2 separate regions of the Homo sapiens genome follow, and region 1 is linked to region 2. The links come from fine-mapping of genetic effects on gene expression. A gene starts in region 2. The other region holds a variant in brackets. All regions are shown on one strand. Distances are between the middles of the regions. Region 1 overlaps BHLHA15 (basic helix-loop-helix family member a15). Region 2 holds the start of TECPR1 (tectonin beta-propeller repeat containing 1).

Region 1 (8,291 bases), 34 kb before region 2:
GTGGCCCTGGACAGCGGCGTGAGGCCCAAACCTCTAGGTAGGGCCCAGTTGGATCCTGATTTTTCATTGAGCCAGGCAGTCTCAGCCCGAGTTGAAAGGCCTCCTTAGCCTTGGAACTAACGTCTCTTCACCCTGACTTCTGGGCAAGGGGAGATCCCAGGAAAAGGTTTACCTGCAGGTTTTCCAAGGCCAAAGCCCCAGCAAGGACCCCCTCTCCAACCTTTGTTATAGGGCTACATGGGGCCTGGGCTCAGCATCCTCATTTGGGGTAAACTGAGGCCCGGGACAAGCCCGGCAGAGCCTAAGGCTGCTCGGGGAGTGGGGCCAATCAGAGATGATTGGAGCTGCCAGAAACTCTAATCAGATGACCTCCAATTCATCCTTAAAAGTTGAATGGTGGGGAGGGGCTGGAGTCTCTTCCTCCCTCCTCCCAAGTTGGGGCTCCTGGATGTGTTGACTCCAGGCTGTGCCTGGTTGTGGAGGGTCTGGGGCAGGGTGTGAGGGGTGCTGTGGAACTGGAGCAGGAGACAGGGCTGGGTGTTCCTGGTGCAGCCCTTCTGGGCATGGGAGAGAAGCCCCAAGGCCCTGGGTTGCTCCCCAAGAGCAGCTCTGAGGCCTCCTGCTCAGCCCTGGCCTGTGTGGGGAGCGAGTGTGCCCCCCACCCAGCCCCTGCCACCGCCGTTACTTATTCTCACTGATGTGGGGTTATCATATAATTGGCACCATGCTGTCTGTAGGACATTATGACGTGCTTGGGTTCTGGTTTGAGTTGGCAGCCCGTTGGGTCTCTCTGCCTGGTGGAGCCTTGGGGTGGCAGGTACGTCCCTTCCCCCGCCCAGGTGCTTCATCCTCATGGCCAGGCCTGGTGGCTTGGCACGTCTCTGCTGCCCCAAGCCCAGCTTCCTTCTGCTGGGCGTTCCTGCCCCACTGGCTCTGCCGGACTTGGCTACTGGACTCTCCCCTCCCTCATGCCTCTGCCCAGAGATGTCCCAAAGGCCCTCAGGGCCAAGCCGGGCCAGGGATGTGGCTGCCACAGCTGAGACCAAGGGCTCTGGCTGGCCCGTCCCCACCAGGTGGCCCTGCCCTCCCCAAGTTGGGGGTTGTGGCACTTGGGGTCAGGCCTAGCCACGTAAGGACACAGGTAACACCCTGAGGATCTGGCATTGGCAGCTTCAGGCCTAACTTTCCTGGTCAGGGCCCCTTAAGGTGGCCCGGGCACATTGGTTTCATTTCGATGAGACTTTGTCAGAGGCCTGGTCTGGTCCTGGCCCTACCGCCCCAGCTGTCCTTCAGCACAGCTCGGGGTGGGGACTCCAGGATGCTGGGTCTGCCCCTTGGGAGGGGCACTCTGGAAGGTCAGGGTGATCCACAACTGTGAGCTGAGGTTGGATGCAGCTGGGAGCTTGGGACAGAGAGAGCCCAGGGCTCCCCTGCTGTGGGGCACCTGCCCAGCGGGGACATGAGATGACAGAGACCTCCCCGGCGGGGGTACTCAGGTGCTACGAACATGGCAGCTCTTGTTTCCGGCTGAGCCATGGCCAGAGCAGGGCTCAGTCTGCCCCTGAACTTGCTGAATGGACCGACGAGCTGAGCCTGAAAGCCCAGAAGAGCCTCGGTCCAGAAGACGGAGACTCGGCCCGGTGTCCAGCGCAGCCCAGGGCTTCCTGGGGGGCAGCAGGAGTGCCTGGGGGTCACCGCCTTCAGGACAATGGCCTCAGTGGCTCTTTCTTTCTGCCCTGAACTGGCACCTGCACCTCCTCTGCTTCCTAGAGGGTGACCTGGGCCGAGCCGCCCAGTCCTTCTTCCCCTGAGGCCAGAGGGGACGCCCCGCGGCCACATCACACAGGATCCTCAGCAGCCATAGTCTCGCTTCAGGGTGTCCAGTGTTTCGAGGAGGAGAGGGGACAGGGGCCAGGTCCACTCCCTTGGCCCTCCTCTTGGACCCCAAGGCCAGGCCGGATCCTTTTATCCCGTGGGGAGCCCCTGCCTCGGCCATCGGGATGAGGTCCCTCAAGTCCCTGCACAAGCAGGTCAGAGACCCACCCACATGCCGTTCCTGGGCTACGCCACGCGCCATCCCCCGGGGCTGTGGACGCACCCAGCCCCCGACAGACAGGCGCCCTGAGAGCTCCGAAGGCGCGATCCCCATCCCCACCAGTGGAGAAGCCAGAACCGCGATTGTTGCATCTGGGAAAACCCAGCTGGAGCCGAACGGCCCGTGCCCCCACTGTAATTGTGCTGAAAATGTTTCTCAAATGACCCAAATTGGCTCTTATTTTTTCTAATGGCCCTTTCAAAGTATTCATGAAATTGATGCTGTGTCATAAAACAAAAATAAAAGATTTCACAGCAATGTCTGCTTCAGGCACACGGGGAACCACGCGTTTTAATCAACGTATCGATAAAAAACACCAGGGCACGGACACTCCAGGGGAAATGCTTATTGAGTAAAGTATCCGAGGAAGTGATGCAGGGCAGGTAAACAGCTGGTGCTCAGCAGCGAGAGGACGCGTCACTCTGCCGTTCTGCAGGGTGACGCCCTCCCCGTACCTCGCTGAGAGCCACCTGCAGACACAGCAGGCCACAGCAGAATGCACAGGTCACTGTTGTAGGGGAACAAATCGTAATGCCCAGAGAAAACCTGATAGTGAAATGTAAACAGACAGGACAGGGTGGTTCCAGGTGGCCACCACCGCCAGGCCCTTCCCGTGATTGATCTGAGAGCTTCACAGCCGGCGGCACTGGGACCCATTTCCAGAAACACTGGAACACCAGGTCTCTCAGATGCCCGCGGGAGGGGCCCCAGGGAGGCCTTTCTCAGCATCAGCTTTTGGGTGACAAACCCCATACAGCAAAACTGTACAAATACACACAACGGACCCCCAGCTGACAGTGAGACCAGGACCCTAGGAAGGTCAGGTGGTGGTGAAGTCATCCCCTCTCCAACCGAGCAGAGCCTGGGGTTGGGCTCTGATGACCTCCCGGGCAAAGTGTCCAGGTGGAGGAAGCAAACTCCCAAATGGGGCACA[G/A]AGGTAATAAAAAGCAGCTGAGAGACTGCGGGATGGGGTCGGGGCCACTTGGCCGACACCTTCTGCCTCGCCTGGCCGGGCCGGGCCAGCCTCTCGCCACAGGATGGAGGGTGACTGTGCACCCTGCTCCATGTACAGGACGGGCTGAGGGTCCCATGGCCACTGCCGACAGACACAGTAGTACTGCTCCCCACAGAAGCCCGCAGTCTGCACCCTCCTACAACATGATTTGACATCCAAGAAGCCCCTGTCACCAGCGCATCTGGGGAAGGGGCCGAATGGGGGTTGATGATGGTGACTGCACACACGGACACTGCCTCCAGCCATGGGGCAGCCTCTCATCCTCTCCCAGCCTCCCGTCTGGTACCCCGGCCCCCTCAGGGAAGAGGACATCCCATCCACTCCAGTGTTATTTCCAATCTGCTGTCTCCTTCCTTCACTTTTTTTTTTTTTTTTTTTTGAGATGGAGTCTCTGTCGCCCAGGCTGGAGTGCAGTGGCATGATCTCGGCTCACTGCAGCCTCCGCCTCCCGGGTTCAAACGATTCTCCTGCCTCAGCCTCCCGAGTAGCTGGGATTACAGGCACCCACCACCATGCCCAGCTAATTTTTTTTTTTTTGTATTTTTAGCAGAGATGGGGTTTCACCATGTTGGCCCGTCTGGTTTGAAACTCTTGACCTAGGTGATCTGCCCACCTCAGCCTCCCAAAGTGCTGGGATTACAGGCGTGAGCCACGGCGCCTGGCCTCCTTCCTTCACTTTTGAAATTAAAGCCTCTTTGCAAGTCCTGCTCTGAGAAATGGTCACTGCACATGGTAAAGAGGCCCTGAGCCCCATGGCCATCTCTCTTGGTGAGGGGTGGCGGGCCCGGGTGCTGTCTGAGATGCCAGCTCAGGAGGGCTCCATCCTGGCTCTGCTGCCCCAGGGCCGGCGTTCCCGGAGGGCTCCAGGTTCCCGGTTCTAGTCCTGGAAAGGCAGAAGGGAGAGGGGAAGGGAAGGGTGGGAGGGGCCTCTGGGAGGTGCAGCCCCACCCCATGCCCCACACCCCGGGACTCCTCGCAGACGGGGACACGTGTGGGAGTGTCCGCGGAGCTTCACATTTCAGGGCCGTCTCAGCCAGTGCCTCTGAAGTGGCCGCAGCCTTGGGGCCAGGTTCCCTCCTGAGTCCACCTGGGCCACATTGCTCCCACGGTGCACACTCCAGCACAAGAATGGCTCAGCCTTGATCCCCCAAACTGGGCACCGTCCCTGCATGTAGGTGTGTGGGGGGGCCTCAGCAGCAGACGGGGCCATGGGCCTCTGGTGGGGCACTCGGCTCCTGCTCCTGGGACGAGCTCCGGGGGGCCCTGGTGGCATTGGCCCGGACAGAGATATGGTCCCAGCCTCCCTGGAAGGAGAGAGCTGTGTCACCAGGGGACTCGGGGACTCGAGGATCCTGGAGGGGATCTGCCTGGGGGCCTCCCTGCAACCCAGACACCGGGTCCCAGGGGACAGTCCCACAGTGGTCGTCCCGTCTTCAGCACCCAGTGCAGGCACAAGGTGATAACACAGCCCAAGGCCGCGGGCCCCGCTCACCCCGATGCCGTAGTCCCAGCCGTGGCCCTTGGGCTCGTGAGGCTGCACGCCGGTGCGATGACACACTGTCCCCCGGCTCAGGCTGTGGCTGCCCTGCACTTTGTTGGCGATCACCCAGACCTGGAGCACAGACCCCATGAAGCCCTCAGCCCTACCTGCAGTGGGACGGCTGGGCATGGGATGGGGGAGACCAGAGAGGGAACCAGAGCACCCCAAGTGCCCGATACCCCCTGAGCACCCCCACCTGGTCCAGGGGCCCCACGGACACTCGGCACACGTTGTTGGACACGTGCTCCCAGCTGGAGCCCTGCGGGTAGCTGGGCGTGATCCCTTGGCGATACCACAGGTTTCCTGGGGAGAAAAGCAGTGAGGGTCAAAGGGGAAGACCTTCCCGGCCCCTCCTGCCCGTGCGGCCCGGCAGCCGGTGGCCAGGCCCCGCTCTAACCACTTCGGGGTTTGGGAAGCTGCTGGGGAGGCAGGAGGGTCCTGGCCCCTGAGTCAGGGCCACAGCCTCCTCCGCTTCTCCACACTCAGGAGCCTGGGCTGCAGCCAGCTCCGCCTTCTGCACACTCGGGGCGTCCCCCGAGCCTCATAATCGCCCTATTGTGCTGGGCACGGCCGGCCTCCTGATCCTCTTTCTGCTGAGGCAGAAACTATGGACAAGGGAAGTCCTAGCCAGAGCAATCAGGCAAGAGAAAGAAAGAAAGGGCATCCAAATCGAAAAAGAGGAAGTCACGGTGTGTCTGTTTGCCCATGATAGGATCAAATACCTAGAAAACCCTAAAGACGCCTCCAAAAGACTCCTAGATTTGACATATGAGTTCAGGAAAGTCTCAGGTTACAAAATCAATGCACACAAATTAGTAGCACTGCTACATGCCAGCAGCAACCAGGCTGAGAATCAAATTAACCCCTTTTACAACAGCTGCAAAAAATAACATAAAATACCTGGGAATGTACTTAACCAAGGAGGTGAAAGATCTCTATAAGGAGAACTACAAAACACTGCTGAAAGAAATCATAGATGACAGAAACAAATGGAAATACATCCCATATTCATGGATTGATGAGTATGGGATGAATCAGTGGAAGAATCAATATCATGAAAATGATCATACTGCCCAAAGCAATCTACAGATTCAATGCAATTCCTATTAAAATACTGTCATCATTTTTTACAGAATTAGAAAAAAAAATCCTAAAATTAATATGGAACCCACAAAGAGCCTCAATGCCCAAAGCAATTCTAACCAAAAAGAACAAATCTGGAGGCATCACATTACTGGACTTCAAATTATACTACAAGCCTACAGTAACAAAAACAGCATGGTGCTGCTATAAAAATAGACACATAGACCAGTGGAACAGAAGAGAGAACCAAGAAATAAAGCCAGATACCCACAACCAATTGATCTTTGAGAAAGCATACAAAAGCATAAACTGGGGAAAGGACACTTTATACAATAAATGGTGCTGGGTAAACTGGATAGTCGCATGTAGAATAATGAAACTGGATCCGTATCTCTCACCATATTAAAAAAACAACTCAAGATGAATCAAACACTTACATCTAGACCTAAAACCATACAAATTCTATAAAAAAAACCTAGGAAAAACTATTCAAGGGCTTTGCCTGGGCAAAGGATTTCTGACTAAGATTCCAAAAGCAAATGCAACAAAAACAAAAATAAAGGAGCCCTAATTAAACTAAAAAGTTTCTGCAGAGCAAAAGAAATAATCATCAGAGTAAACAGAAAACCCACAGGATAGGAGGAAATATTTGCAAACTATGCAACTGACAAAGGACTCATAACCAGAATCTAGAAGGACTCAAACAAATCAGCACACACACAAAAAACAAAAAACCAATAATCCCATCCAAAAGTGGCCAAATGACATGAATAGACATTTCTCAAAAGAAGATATGCGGCTGGGCGCGGTGGCTCATGCCTTTAATCCCAGCACTTTGGGAGGCCAAGGCAGGCGGATCACCTGAGGTTGAGAGTTCGAGACCAGCCTGACCAACACAGAGAAACCCCATCTCTACTAAAAATACAAAATTAGCCGGGTGTGTTGGTGCATGGCTGTAATCCCAGCTACTCGGGAGGCTGAGGTAGGAGAATCGCTTGAACCTGGGAGGCAGAGGTTGCAGTGAGCCGAGATCGCACCACTGCACTCCAGCCTGGGCAACAAGAGCAGAACTCCATCTCAAATTAAAAAAAAAGAAGATATACAAATGACCAACAAACATGAAAAAATGCTCAACACCACTAATCATCTGAGAAATGCAAATCCAAACCACACTGAGATATTAATACCACTTTATTTCTGCAAGACTGGCCATTATTATAAAGTCAAAAAACAACACAGCCAGGCGCGGTGGCTCATGCCTGTAATCCCAGCACTTAGGGAGGCGGAGGTGGGCGGATCACCTGAGGTCAGGAGTTCGAGACCAGCCTGCCCAACATGGCGAAACCCCATCTCTACTAAAAATACAAAAAAATTAGCCAGGCATGATGGCAGGGACCTGTAATCCCAGCTACTTGGGAGGCTGAGACAGAAGAATCGCTTGAACCTGGGAGGCGGAGGTTGCAGTAAGCCGAGATCATGTCACTGTACTCTAGCCTGGGCAACAAGAATGAAATTCCGTCTCAAAAACAAAAAAAAAATTTTTTAACGGTACATTTTACTTTATTTATTTTTATTTTTATTTTATTTTTTGAGACAGAGTCTTGCTCTGTCACCCAGGCTGGAGTGCAGTGGCATGCCTTGGCTCACTGCAATCAATATCCTCCTCCTCCCAGGTTCAAGCGATTCTCCTGCCTCAGCCTCCTGAGTAGCTGGGATTATAGGTGCGCACTACCACATCTGGCTTTTTTTTTTTTGAGACGGAGTCTCGCTCTGTCACCCAGGCTGGAGTGCAGTGACGCAATCTCGGCTCACTGCAAGCTCCGCCTCTGGGGTTCACGCCATTCTCCTGCCTCAGCCTCCCGATTAGCTTGGACTACAGGCACCCGCCACCACGCCCAGCTAATTTTTTGTATTTTTAGTAGAGACAGGGTTTCACTGTTAGCCAGGATGGTCTCGATTTCCTGACCTTGTGATCCGCCTGCTCCGGCCTCCCAAAGTGCTGGGATTACAGGTGTGAGCCACCGCGCTTGGCCTAATTTTTGTGTTTTTAGTAGAGATGGGTTTCACTAAGTTGGCCAGGCTGGTCTCAAACTCCTGATCTCAAGTGATCCGCCCACCTCAGCCTCCCAAAGTGCTGGAATTATAGGCATGAGCCACTGTGCCTGGCTAATGGTACATTTTAAAATAACTGAAAGAGGGCCAGGCGCGGTAGCTCACACCTGTAATCCCAGCACTTTGGGAGGCCGAGGTGGGCAGGTCACTTGAGGTCAGGAGTTTGAGACCAGCCTGGCCAATATGGTGAAACCCCGCCTCTACTAAAAATATAAAAATTAGCCAGGTGTGGTGGTGCGTGTCTGTAATCCCAGCTACTTGGGAGGCTGAGGCAGGAGAATCGCTTGAACTCAGTAGGTGGAGGTTGCAGTGAGCCGAGATTGCACCACTGCACTCTAGCCTGGGAGACAAGAGCGAAACTCCATCTCAAAGAAAAAATAATAACAATAATAACTAAAAGAGTAGAATTGGATTGTTTGTAACATAAAGGCTTGAGGAGGTGGATA
Region 2 (8,321 bases):
AGCAATCCTCCCATCTCGGCCTCCCAAACTGCTAGGATTACAGCCTTGAGCCACCATGCCTGGCCAGATCTTTGTTTTCAAAAGAATCAATGAAAGCTTACAGGTTTAGTTGAATCTCGAAAGATATAACTACCCCACTACTTCCCCAGGGGTCCTTCCCCAGAGTGGGCAGGTCTCCCCGCCATGTTGGCCTCTATCTGGGCATAATGAGGGCACGTTGAGAGCCAACGTGACCATGTGAATTCAGGGACGTAGGGGTCTTTTCTTCATGCGCCCTCAGTGACTCCTTCCTCCTCTTCCCCCGGCTCTCTTCTTCTGCCATTCTCTACTCCTTTCTTTTTCTTTTCTTTTCTTTTTTATTTTTTAAGAGAGTATCTTGCTCTGTTGTCCAGACTGGAGTACAGTGGTGCAATCATAGCTCACTGCAGCCTTGAACTCCTGAACTCAAGCCATCCTCCTGCCTCAGCCTCCTGAGTGGCTGGGACTACAGGCATGTGCCACCGTACCTGGCTAATTTTTAAAATTTTTTTTGTAGAGATGGGGTCTCGCTATGTTGCCCAGGCTGGTCTTGAACTCCTGGCCTCAAGCGATCCTCCCACCTTGGCCTCCCGAAGCGCTGGGATTATAGACGTGAGCCACTGCACCCAGCCCTTTCTCTCTTCTTTCTCTGTGCTTTGTAGGCATAGCCAAGGCTATTGCTAAGCTCTGCCACTGACCACCCCTGGCCCCACCTCCAGGGCCCATAGTGCTGTTGCACCCAGGGGTGTCCTTCCTGGAGTCCTGGCTCCTGATAGGAACAGTCTTTCCACCGTGGCAGGGCCACATGGCCACACACAAGGCAGCCAAACACAGAGCTACTGGATGAAGCCACCAGGGCCATCACCTGAGAAGCTCTGCCCGACAGGGCGGCTCCTAGATCCAACCCAGGACACTGGCCCGGGGCCTGAAGAGAGGAAAGAGCCTACAGATGAAGACATGGCCAGTCTGACTTAAAAACCGGAGCAAAAGGAGACAGGCAGAGTTTATTTAGGTGCCTGGAGGCTGGGCCCAGTGCTCCCGCAGCATACCAGAGCCATGCGGGTGCTCCAGACGGCCGGGTGACTGTGACGATGGCACGAGATAGAAGCATGTCTGAAAAGAGGAGCAGCTGCCACCGGCAAAAAAAAAAAAAAAAAAAAAAAAAAAGCCAGGTGTGGTGGCTCACACCTGTAAACCCAGCACTTTGGGAGGCCAAGGCGGATGGATCACCTGATGCCAGGAGTTTGAGACCAGCCTGGCCAGCATGGTGAGACTCCATCTTTACTGAAAAAAAAAGGTGAAAATTAGCCAGGCACAGTGGCGCGTGCCTGTAATCTCAGTTACTCAGGAGACTGAGGCAGGAGAATCGCTGGAACCAGGAGGTGGAGGTTGCAGAGAGCCGAGATTGCACCACTGCACTCCAGCCTGGATGACAGAGTGCGACTCCGTCTCAAAAAAAAACAAAACAAAAAACTAGGCTCTTTGGGGACAAGGTGCATCTTTTTTTTTTTTTTTTGACAGAGTCTTCCTCTACTCCCAGGCTGGAGTGCAGTGGCATAATCACAGCTCACTGAAACTTCCACCTTCTGGGTTCAAGTGATTCTCCTGCCTCAGCCTCCCAAGTAGCTGGGATTACAGACCTGCACCACCACATCTGGCCCATTTTTGTATTTTTAGTAGAGATGGGGTTTTGCCACTTTGGCCAGGCTGGTCTCGAACTCCTGGCCTCAGGTGATCCGTCCCAAAGTGCTACGATTACAGGCAGGAGCCCCTGGCCCTGGCTGGGACAAGGTATATCTTACAAACACCAAGAAGACAGATTGCAGGTTGAGAAGGAAGTGAGTGAGAGGGTGAGGAACAGGAAGACAGGAAGCAGAACAAAAGCTCAGCTCTGGGAAACTCCCATAACAGGAAGTGGGGGAAAAGAATAGGAGGGAGACTGCCCAGCAGAATGGAGGAAGCCCGGGGAGTAAGAGCCCCTCCCAGAGCAGCTGACCCCCTCCATCCCAGGACACCAAGGCCCGTCAAACATATGAGAAAATCAGAACACCAGCTTTCTGGAACCATCTGAAACTGAGCTGGGACCCCTGGTGACCCCTTCGTGCCTCACTGATCAGGACTGAGGGTCCCTCTGGCACCTTCACAGTGACTAAGAGAGTCCAGAGCTGCCTGGATCTCAGAATGCTGCATTCTGGGATCCTCACTTTCTTGTACCACCAAAAGCTAACTAACCTCTCTGTGCCTTAATTTCCTAATCTATAAAAGGCAGAATAGGGCTGGGCGTGGTGGCTCATGCCTGTAATCCCAACACTTTGGGAGGCCAAGGCGGGCAGATTGCTTGAGGCCAGGAGTTTGAGACCAGCCTGGCCAACACGGTGAAACCCGTCTCTACTAAAACTACAAAAATTAGCCGGCTTGGGAGGCTGAGGCAGGAGAATCGCTTGAACCTGGTAGGAGGAGATTGTAGTGAGCCAAGATCGTGTCACCACACTCCAGCCTGGCCAACACAGCAAGACTCCATCTCAAAAAAAAAAAAAGAAAAACAAAAAACCAAGTCCCTTTCAGGTCTGAGTCTTCAGCCTCTTCATTTCCATAATAGTCTCTGCACACAGTGGGTGTTGAAACAACATTTAAGGATAATCACCACCACCTACCTCCAACACACTGCCAACTCCCTGATCTAAGACAGAAATACTTCTCCAGGGAAAACAAATGCCACAAATAACTTGAAAAGTAAGGTCATAATTGGTGGACAGATATGTGATAAAGCAAGTAAAGTGTCAATAGTAGAATCTAGTTGGTGGGGATGGGGATGCTGACTGTATAATTCTTTCAACTTGGCTGTATGTGGGAAAATCCTCAATAAAATGCTAGGGGAAGACGAAGGTTTTTTTTTTTAATTGTCACTTTCTATAGTGTTAAATATAAGTTAGCCTTCAAAGATAGCTCAGAGGCCAGGTGCAGTAGCTCATGCCTGTAATCCCAGCCCTTTCCGGGGCTGAGGTGGGAGGATCGCTTGAGCCGAGGAGTTCAAAACCAGCCTAAGCAACACAGGGAGACCCCATCTCTGTAAAAATAAAAAGTTAAAAAAAAAATTAGCCAGGTGTGGTGGCACATGCCTGTGATCCTAGCTACTTGGGAGGCTGAGGCAGGAGGATCACTTGAGCCCAGGAGTTTGAGGCTACAGTGAGCTATGATTGTGCCACTGCACTCCAGCCTGGGCAGCAGAGCGAGACCCTGTCTCAAAAAGGAAAACAAACAACAACAACAACAACAACAAAACAAAGATAGCTCAGAATTCACTGGATAAGCAAGCAGTTTAGCTAGACTCAGTCTGCAGGTTGAGCTCAATGAAAGGAGATTTTGACTTTCCTTCAAATAAATGACTAAGCACTAATTTCCTCATAGACATCATTGAATCTTCTGGGCAGTTAATGGGAGAAGACTCTGCTACAGTGAAAGGGAGGGGTGGGGGGTTGCTGTATTTACAAACTCCCTTCAGAGTAGAGACCCAGGCACCTGTCGTCACTTCCTAGCTACAGTTGACATCCGGTAACCATCCTTGGTCAGCCACACTTTCTTTCTGCCTCTGCCAAGAGGCTCCCCCTAGCTCCTCATGGGCCACTTTCTGGCTGTGAGCTGATCAGGCAACTTACACAGGGTCACTGGGTCAGAGGACTCTTGAAAGGGGGGTTGGAACATGAAGCCCCATGATTCAGGGATCCTGGGACTTGTTTGTTTTGTAGGGTTAGAGGGATGGAGGAAAATCTTCCAAATCAGCAGCCTCGAATTCACCAAGAATTTCTACAAGATGAATTTGAGTTGAACCTTCAGTCTTTCCACGAAGAAGGTCTGCTCGCCACCCTCAAAGCCATCTGCCTTTCTGTCTCAGTTTATTCACAGATCCTTTCAGAGACCAAAAAAAGCACCCAAGAGAGGCGGGGACAGAGATGTGGTAGAGGAAAAGACACAGTACAAAGAACGCTCCGCAAGCACTTACTTCCTCTGAGCCTTAGGAGTCCTACCTAAAAGGTTTCTTGCTTGTTTTTCTATTACACTGTCACTCCCATCCGGTATGCAAACAGTCGGCAATGCCTACTACAGTAGCTCGCTGGCTGCCAGGTGCAGGGGCTGTTCAAAAGCGACATCAGGGTCCTAAAAGGTGGGAAAAAGCAGCAGAACTTGCATGGTAGTTGATTCTTTCCTGAAGAATAGGGTCCGCCCAGCCCCACCGGGCAGGAGGTGTCCTGAGTCAGCCTGGCGTTCAGCCCAGTGCTGTGCACTTGGGTGACAGGTGGGGCCCCTGCACTGCCACCAGTAGCATATGTCGGAGCTCTGGGCCCTGACCATCTGCCAAAGCTAATCTTACGACAAGCAGATTTGCTCCCATCAATACCCAGGGAGAGGGATAGGCAGGCCCCTTGCTGCGTGATTCTCGAAAACAACCAGGATCCCGCGATCCGCTTCTCCTATGGCTCCAGTCCAAAGGCTGGAATGGGGGCGTCACCTGCACCAGGCAACTTCGCTAGCCTGTGGGCGTTCCAGGGCAGGGGACGGGGGCGGCACCTTCCAGGTGTGCAGGCGAGATGACAAGTGCGGTCCCTCCTTCCTCCCTCCCCGCGAGCAAACAGCCTGGGGGTGGTGGGGAAGGCGGCGTGCCCAGCCCTTCATCGCCCCATTCTTTCCCACGGCCCTGGCCGCCGCTGCAGCTGGGGCGCCACTCTGCACTCACCTGGGCCCGCGCCGGGCGGGGCGAAGTCGCGGTGGTAGGTCCTCGGCGTCCGGGAGGAGCGGACCGGCCCTCCCGGGGACCGGGCAAGAGGGTGGGCCGGAAGCGGCATCAGGCCCCGTGCCCATTGGCCAGCCTCGCCAGGACGCTGCGACCTGGGACGTGCGATTGGCTGCGGTGCGCCGCGTCGGTGCTGGCTTCGAGGTCGCGCGCCCGCCCACTTCCGGGGTCGCGCCAGGTCAGGAGTCCAGAGTCGGCTGAAGCGAGTTGCCGCGTTCTCTCTGGCGGCGCGACACCGGCCCGTGGACCGCCCGGCCGCCCTCCAGGACCCGGTCTGCAGGAGCGGAGAGGGCGGTGTGGACACCGCCTGCAGGCGAGGAGAAGGGGTGGCGGAGAGGGTACCTGGGTGCGTGGCTGTGCGGCGTCAGGAGGAGCAGGGTGTGGGCGCCCGGCCTGGGGCGTGGAGAGGACGCAGGGAACAGGTGTCTTCCTGGTATCCATCGAACTGAAACGTAGCCCTTGAGCACACACTACACTTAAAGCTTTACTCTTTCGAGGAGGAGTCCTGGAAGCATATGTGATTTTGTGACTATAGCATGGTGTGGTGTCAGTAACAGGCCCTGGATTGCTCAAACTCTATTGTCAGTGACAAAACCCAGTGTAAGCTGGCCTAATATATTAATAGTAATATGCGAGTCCTCCCGGGGTGGCGGGCACTGACGTAAGTGCTTTACTTGGGTCTTCTCATTTCATCCTCCCAGCAACCCAAAGAGCTGGCGGCGTCATTCCCATTTTACAAATGCGAACACGGGCTCAGAGATGGAGCGACTCACGTTGTAAGCGATGGAACTGGGATTTGAAAACACTGTATCCCGCCTGGCAGAAAACTGGCAAGGTTAGGATGGAGAAAGGAGAAAAAAGAAAGATGTCGGCCAGGTGCGGCGGTTCATACCTGTAATCCCAGCACTTTGGGAGGCCAAGGCGGGCGGATCACTTGAGGTCAGGGGTTTGAGACCAGCCTGGCCAAGATGGTGAAACCCCGTCTCTAGTAAAAATGCAAAATTAGCCAGGGGTGGTGGCGCATGCCTGTAATCTCAGCTACTCGGGAGACTGAGGCAGGAAAATCGCTTGAACTGGGGAGGTGGAGGTTGCAGTGAGCTGAGATCGTGCCACTGTGCCACCGCACTACAGCCTGGGCGACAAGAGCAAAACTCCTTCTCAAAAAAGAAAAAAAAGGGCATCTGATGGAAGGCTAGATACTACCCGACATTGAGCTAAACCAATGTCACCTGGTTGGACCTAGGGACCTATTCCTGCTCCCCCTCTAGTTCTGTCTCATTTCTGGGGTTGCACACAGGCTTTTCCTGGGCCTTCATGTTTGGGGAAGCCCCACACAGGCCAGCTCCAGTGGAAGAAAACGCCCCCAGAAGCCTCTTGTTCACCCCGGATGGCTCTGTGGAGTCCTGTGTCTGACCCTGACTTTAGCTTGGGCCTGAGGGACTGGCATTTGTGGACTTGGTCTGGAGATGTGGGCAGAGCCCCCCTCAAGCATAAGGGCTCAGCCAGGCACAGGGGGTGGCTCCTCAGAGGAAGATCAGGGTGCTATTAGCAGAAGGACGATGAGTGGGCCGGGCGCAGTGGTTCACGCCTGTAATCCCAGCCCTTTGGGAGGCCGAGGCGGGTGGATCATGAGGTCAGGAGATGAGACCATCCTGGCTAACATGGTGAAACACCGTCTCTACTAAAAACACAAAAAATTAGCCGGGCGTGGTGGCGGGCGCCTGTAGTCCCAGCTACTCGGGAGGCTGAGGCAGGATAATGAGGTGAACCCAGGAGGCGGAGCTTGCAGTGAGCTGAGATTGTGCCACTACACTCCAGCCTGGGCAACAGAGCAAAACTCTGTCTCAAAAAAAAAAAAAAAAAAAAAAAAGGAGGATGAGTGGTCGCTAGACTGCTGGAGAAACAGTCTAGAGGTAGGGAGCCCTGGGTTCTGTCCTGCCTGTGACACTCTGTAGCCATTTATCTCCTCTTTAGCTTTAGTTTCCACATTAAAAGAGGCATTGAAAAAAAATGAAAAAGAGGCATTGAATTAGGAGCTTTCTGTGGCCCCTTGCAGTTTTCATGTGTGGTGACAAAGTTCAATATAGTTTTCCTGAATTCAGGGGCTTGGGGACCCATGTCCCCCTATCCCGAGTTCTTTTTTTTTTTTTTTTTTTTTGAGAGGGAGTCTCACTCTGTCACCCAGGCTGCAGTGCAGTGGTGAGATCTCAGCTCACTGCAACCTCCACCTCCCAGGTTCAAGCGATTCTCCTTTCTCAGCCTCCTGAGTAGCTGGGACTACAGGTGTGTGCCACCACGCCAGGCTAATTTTTTTATTTTTAGTAGAGACAGGATCTCACCATGTTGGCCAGGCTGGTCTTGAACTCCTGACCTCAGGTAATCCACCCATCTCAGCCTCCCAAAGTGCTGGGATTATAGGCGTGAGCCAGCATGCCCGGCCAAAAGTTTGCTTTCTTTTGAGTCTGTGATCAGCCTTTCACTGAATACACAATTTACATGTGAGAGTGGGTAGAGGAATAGTCACATATGCCTTACTCACTGTCTGGCTCAGTGAATCTGCATTTTGTATAAACAATAGGACAGAGGAAGAAATCACATATGCATTTGTCTTCAGTGAGCGGAGGGCTGACTTTCTGCATTGTACCTGTGAAGATAAGCTATCAATTTACATTGCCAGGGAAAATTCATCAGAACTGTTTTAGGGCAAAGATCTTGAGGCCCGAAAGGAATTTGCTTGTGGAGAAATTGTGAGGGGGGTATGTAGCTCTTTTGAACTTTCTAGCTATCTTATTGAAGAATAAAACGGGAGGCAGGTTTGTCTGATGCGACCCTCAGCTTGACTTTTCTCTTTGGCGTAGTGATCTTGGGGTCCCGAGATTTATTTTCCTTTCACAGTAGGATACATTGATCAGGTCAGTGCCACAGTACAAGGGTCAGAAGTGTTTGAACCCGAGCGACTCCATCTTGAACAGGGGCTGGGTAAAATGAGGCTGAGAACTGCTGGGCTCCATCCCCAGGAGGTTGGGCATTCTTGGTCACAGGATGAAATAGGAGGTCAGCAGGTTTGGTATCACAAGATACAGGTCACAAAGCCCCTGCTGATAGAAGAGGATGCGGTAAAGAAGCCAGCCAAAACCACGATGGTGATGAAAGTGACTTCTGGTTGTCCTCACCGCTCATTATACTCTAATTATAATACATTAGCATGCTAAAAGACACTCCTACCGGTGCTGTGACAGTTTATAGATGCCATGGCAACGTCAGGAAGTTACCCTATATGGTCTGAAAAGGAGGGGAAACCTTAGTTCCAGGAATTGCCCTCTGCTTTCCTGGAAAACTCATGAATAATCCACCCCTTGTTTACCATAGAACCAAGAAATAACTATAAGTATACTCAGTCCAGCAGCTCATGCTGCTGCTCTGGCTGTGGAGTAGTCATTCTTTTATTCCTTTACTTTCTTTTATTTTTTATTTATTATTATTATTATTATCTTATTTGAGATGGAGTCTCTGT

Evidence for each region.
Region 1: its variant is fine-mapped to the expression of TECPR1 in lung (TOPMed, PIP above 0.99). The same link has a PIP of 0.9 or more in nucleus accumbens, putamen, tibial artery and whole blood.

The regions. Positions count from the first base shown.
Region 1 is chr7:98,213,090-98,221,380 of GRCh38, forward strand. It overlaps BHLHA15 (basic helix-loop-helix family member a15), which reads left to right. Exons shown (of 2, transcript NM_177455.4): 2 at 1-2,368. It overlaps TECPR1 (tectonin beta-propeller repeat containing 1), which reads right to left. Exons shown (of 26, transcript NM_015395.3): 24 at 4,847-4,953; 25 at 4,603-4,722; 26 at 1,535-4,414. The coding sequence ends at 4,301. Among named protein-coding and RNA genes, the nearest start is that of BHLHA15, 5.8 kb to the left of the region's middle. RefSeq lists an enhancer at 5,197-5,256. The variant G/A (reference allele first, on the strand shown) is at 3,030.
Region 2 is chr7:98,247,376-98,255,696 of GRCh38, forward strand. It overlaps TECPR1 (tectonin beta-propeller repeat containing 1), which reads right to left and starts at 4,857. Exons shown (of 26, transcript NM_015395.3): 1 at 4,751-4,857; 2 at 4,019-4,173. It overlaps LOC124901706 (a long non-coding RNA gene), which reads left to right and starts at 4,984. Exons shown (of 2, transcript XR_007060448.1): 1 at 4,984-5,153; 2 at 5,509-8,321. RefSeq lists enhancers at 4,504-5,247, 7,962-8,256 and silencers at 4,564-4,953, 5,044-5,143.